Regions from separate parts of the Homo sapiens genome. Here region 2 is linked to region 1. Evidence: fine-mapped expression QTL. A gene starts in region 1. The other region holds a variant in brackets. All regions are shown on one strand. Distances are between the middles of the regions. Region 1 holds the start of GPR33 (G protein-coupled receptor 33). Region 2 overlaps LOC105370438 (a long non-coding RNA gene).

Evidence for each region. PIP is the estimated chance that this variant, and not a neighbour inherited with it, causes the effect.
Region 2: its variant is the best candidate, but not a certain one, in a credible set for the expression of GPR33 in whole blood (TOPMed, PIP 0.53).

What each region holds. Positions count from the first base shown.
Region 1 is chr14:31,486,453-31,489,254 of GRCh38, reverse strand. GPR33 (G protein-coupled receptor 33) reads left to right here and starts at 1,216. Exons shown (of 2, transcript NM_001197184.3): 1 at 1,216-1,358.
Region 2 is chr14:31,547,292-31,550,093 of GRCh38, reverse strand. All of the region lies in intron 2 of LOC105370438 (a long non-coding RNA gene), which reads right to left. Among named protein-coding and RNA genes, the nearest start is that of NUBPL-DT, 13 kb to the left of the region's middle. The variant T/A (reference allele first, on the strand shown) is at 1,531.

The DNA of each region.
Region 1 (2,802 bases):
ATGAATTAAGAACTGAAATTTAAGCCTATTTTTAATAAGGCTACAATCTAGCAGTTAAAGTTTTAAAATTCTAAGTCTAACAAAGACTGGGTAATGGTTTTGATTCCTAAACTCTTGACCACCAACGCTGCACAGTGGTTTTGATGTATTTTCTCCACTGGTAATGAAGAGATGAAGAGGAAAGCAGGCAGGAAAAAAATCAGGACACTGAGGTCAGCACAGAAGGGGATCCAAAAAAAATTTCAGAGATAGATTAGAGAGAAGAACATAGGAAATGTAGAACTCAGTCAGTAATGGTTCATAAATGCATTACCTGTGTTGGAAGATTCCTTATAATGAGATCATCTTCTAGGATGTAGTAACCAATTCTGTTTTTTTCCAACCGTTCTACAACCATCATACAAATGCAGATTGTTCTGCCTGTCAGTCTTCATCAACCCAAACTGAATAATATAAATCTCTGGCCTGTCCTCATAAATTCCATTTTAATGTGAAACTCAGTATTTAAGTTTTTCCTTCTAACTATTTTCTGTCCAGAAAGATTAGATAGCTCATTTCCAGAGTTTATTTTGGTCTCTGCCTGATATTTACCACCTCCTTATGTACCCAACACCATCCATCCATCTGCTAATAAACACCCTAGAGTTGAGGCAGAGTGGGTGCCTGGCGGGATGACCCAATACGAGAAGGGAATTAACACCCGAAACAAGTTTATTAACCTTTTAAATGAAATGACTTAGCTTATGCAATTCATTCTCTCTCTCTCTCTCTCTTTTGAGAGGCAGGGTCTCACTCTGTTGCCCAGGCTGGAGTGTGGTGGCTATTCACCACCATGATCATAGCACACTGCAGCCTCGAACTCCCGGGCTCAAGTGATCCTCCTGCCTCAGCCTCTCCTCCTGAGTAGCTAGTGCTACAGGTGTGCCAGGTGTGCACCACCAGGCCCGGCTATTTTTTTTTTTTATTTTGGTCTCTAACTCCTGGCTTCAAGTTGTCCTCCTGCCTCGGCCTCAGAAAGCACTGGGACTACAGGTGTGAGCCACTGCACTTGGTCACTTACAGATTTTTTTTAATGCCCCTCAAAATGGAGAAATAATTTGAAGAAGTACTCATTTCTCTATACCTCTATAGCAGTAAATTCCACAGAAAAAAAGGAACCAAAAAGAGGAAAAGACCTCACTGAGTATTTAAATAATAGCAAGTTCAAGCTTGGGGAGTAGCATCAGCAAGAAGAAAGACATATGAAATGAAGGCAAAGTGTCACTGATTTTGTTCACTCTGTTCCTAGTGAGAAATTGATGGTGTAGAGTCACTTTGGCCTGCTCAAGACCAATCTGGCATGAAGATACAGGTCTGAGGTAAGATTCTCTGGACTAGTAGGTTTATCCTAGAGCTATCATCCGAATTGACCCTCTAGGCTTATTGCACATTAGCTTCCCGATGCTCCTGTGGCCTTCCCCTGCGCCAGCAGCTCAGTGTTCCCAAGTGGAGGTGGGGTCTTCCTGAAAGCCGCCTGTGGCTGGGCACGGTGGCTCATGCCTGTAATCCCAGCACTTTGGGAGGCTGAGGCGGGCAGATCACAAGGTCAGGAGTTCAAGACCAGCCTGGCCAATATGGTGAAACCCCATCTCTACTAAAAATACAAAATTTAACCAGGCATGGTGGCAGGTGCCTGTAGTCCCAGCTACTGAGGAGGCTGAGGCAGGAGAATCACTTGAACCCAGGAGGCGGAGGTTGCAGTGAGCCAGGATCACGCCATTGCACTCCAGCCTGGGGGACAGAGCAAGACTCCATCTGAAAAAAAAAAAAAAAAAAAAAAAAACTGAGGGGCTTAGCAGGAGAAAAAGTCTCAACAAGTTATCTGAACTTGCAGAGCTGGTAAGTGGTAGAGGTAGGATACAAACCCAGGTCTGTGGGATGCCAGAGTCTGAGATCTGCCCCATTTATTTATTCTCAAGTACTTTAACATCATTTTAAAGGTGTTTAAGGATGAAGAAATCTCCTGGTTATGTGCAATAAATCAGAATTCCTAGGAAACTTTATATGATATTCAGAATCACTACCAACATTGATCAGAAAAGTTTTACTATGATTTTGCCCATGTTCTACATTACTTTCAGATGTCCTTCTAGAGCTCAGATGCACAATTAAAAAAAAATCTTTCCCATAATTCGGGTATCTAGTTTCTCATATGCACACACATAAAGAGACCACACGCATACAACACAAACACACAAACACTACACATACACACATTCCACAGAAAAACATACAAAGACCACAGACACATACATACACAGAGATCACACAAATACACTGAGATACACATACACTGATCACAGACACACCTCTACACATACTCCATGGATAAAAACACCACAGAGACTTTGATTCCCCAGAACCACCACCAACACAAGACAGCTGAGGGTTAATGGGGAAAAGGGACACTATACCATATCAAAGCATAGCAAATAGATTATAATTATTAGACATTCCTATTTTTAAATCCCCTGTGTCATTTCTGCTTCTCAGAATACTTCATTGACCCTTTCTCCTCTGTAGGGCTCCTAACATCCTGCTGAGTTTTTTTCTGTGCTGCCTGTCTTAAAATCATCCTCGTCTTCCACCCTCTTCTTAAGGTCCCAGGGCCTTCACAAAACCTCTCTCTCAAGTTCTCATTCTTTTATTTGCCATTGCCTGTCCATTTCATATGCTTCAGACTCCACTTTTTATTCCCAAAGAAGACTACTAAGGTATTTTCATGAAGAATCATTTTTCTACTTTAGAGAAAAATTTTGCAAC
Region 2 (2,802 bases), 61 kb before region 1:
GGAAGTTGAGGCTACAGTGAGCCAAGATTGCACCCCTGTATGCCAGCCTGGGCAATGGAAGTGAGACCGTCAAAAAAAAAAAAGAGGGAGAAGAAGGAGAAGGAGGAGGAGGAAGAGGAGGAGCAGGAGGAGGAAGAGAAGGAGGAGAAGGAGGAGAGGAAGAGAGGAAGAAGGAGAAGGAGAAAGAGAAGAAGTTGATATGGTTTGGATTTGTGTATCCACCCAAATCTCACGTTGAGTTGTAATACCCAATGTTGGAGGTGGGGCCTGATGGGAGGTGATTGGATCATGCAGGCAGATTTCCTCCTTTGGTGCTGTTCTACTGATAGAGTTCTTATGAAATCTGGTTTTTTAAAAGTGTGTGGCAACTCCCCCATCTCAGTCTTCCTCCTGCTTTGGCCATGTGAAGATGTGTCTACTTCCCCTTCACATTCTACAATGACCACTTTCCACAATGATTGTAAGTTTCCTGAGGCCTCCCCAGCCACACTTCCTATATAGCCTGCAGAACCATGAGCCAATTAAACCTCTTTTCTTTATAAATTACCCAGTCTCAGATATTTCTTTATAGCAGTGTGAGAATGGACTAATACAGATCTCTAAAATGAAAACTGTAAAACACTAATGAAAAAAATAAAGGAAAAAGATACTCCATGTTCATGGATTGGAAAAATCAATATTGTTAAAATGTCCATAATACCCAAAGCAATCTACAGATTCAATGCAAACCCTATCAAAATACCAATAACATTCTTCACAGAAATAGAAAAAACAATCCTAAAATTTATATGGAACCACAAAGGAACCAGAATAGCCAAAGCAATCATAAGCAAAAAGAACAAAGCTAGAGGCATCAAATTATATTACAAAGCCACCTGACTTCAAATCATACTACAAAGCTATAGTAACCAAAACAACATGGTACTGGCATAAAAACAGACACATACACCAATGGAACAGAATAGAGAACCCAGAAATAAATTCATGCATTTACAGTCAACACATTTTCAATAAAGGGACCAAGAACATACATTAGGAAAAGAACAGTCTCTTCAATAAATGGTGCTGGGGAAACTAGATGTCCATGTGAGAAAGAATGAAACTAGACCCCTATCTCTCACCATACACAAAAGTCAAATCAAAATAAAAACCTAAATCTAAGAGCTGAAACTTGAAACTACTAGAAGAAAACATTGAGGAGATGCTCCAGGACATTGGTTCAGGCAAAGATTTCTTGAGTAAGAACTCAAAAGTATAGGCAAACAAAGCAAAAGTGGGCAAATGAGATCATATCAAGCTAAAAAGCTTCTACACAGCTAAGGAAACAAAGTGAAGAGACCACTCACAGAATGGGAGAAAATATTTGAAAACTACCCATCTGACAAGGGATTAATAACCAGAATACATAAGAAGCTCAAACACCTCAAAAGCAGAAAAAAAAAAGTCTGATTTTTAAGTGAGAAAAAGATCTGAATAGACATTTCTCAAAAGAAGATGTACAAATAAATATATACAGATATTCAGGTTTTT[T/A]AAAAATGTTCAACATCACTAATTATCAGATCAAATCAAAGCCGTAATGAGATATCATCTCACCCCAGTTAAAATGGCTTTTGTCAAAAAGACAGGCAATAACAGATGCTGGTGAAGATGTGGAGAAAGGGGAACCCTTCTACACTGTTGGTGGGAATATAAATTAGTACAGCCACTATGGAAAATATGGAACTTCTTCAAAAAACTAAAACTGGCCAAGTGCGGTGGCTCACACCTGTAATCCCAGCACTTTGGGAGGCCGAGGCAGGCAGATCACAAGGTTAGGAGTTCAAGACCAGCCTGGGCAAAATGGTGAAACCCCGTCTCTACTAAAAATACAAAAATTAGCTGGGCGTGGTGGCAGGTGCCTGTAGTCCCAGCTACTTGGGAGGCTGAGGCAGGAGACTCACCTGAACCCGGGAGGCGGAGGTTATAGTGAGCCAAGTTCACGCCACTGAACTCCAGCCTGGGCAACAGAGGGAGACTCCGTCTCAAAAAAAAAAACAAAACAATAAAAAACTAGAAACACCATTTGATCCAGCAATTCCACTGCTGGGTATATAACCAGAAAGAGAGTCAACATATCAAAGAGATATCTGCACTCTCATGTTTATTGCAGCAGTATTCACAATAGCCAAAATATGGAATCAACTTAAGTGTCCATCCATCAACAGATGAATGGATAAAGAAAATGTGGTATATATACACAATAGGATATAATTCAGCCATAAAAAAGAATGAAATCTTGTCACTTGCAACGACATGAATAGAACTGGAGGATATTACGTTAAGTGAAATAAGCCAGGCATAGAAAGACAAATATCATGTGTTCTCACGCATATGTGAAAAACTTGATCTCATGAAGATAGAGAATACATTGATGGTTATCAGAGGCTGGGAAAGGCAGTGTGGAAGGGCGATAAATATGAGCTGGTTAATAGGTACAAAAATCAGTTAGATAGAAGGAATAAGCTCTAGTGTTCAGTAGCAACATAGGGTGACTACAGTTAATAATAATTCATTGTATATTTAAAAATAAATAGAAGAGTGGGATTGGAATCTTCCTAACCCCAAAAAAAAAAAAAAAATAAATGGTTGAGGTGATGGTTATCCCAGTTACCCTGATTTGATCATTACACATTATATGCTTATATCAAAATCTCACATGTACCCCATAAATATATACAACTACCATACTTCCATAAAACTTAAAAATTTTGTTTTTAATTTTTTTAAAAAAAGAAAATGAATAGCCAAGCCACAGACTGGGAG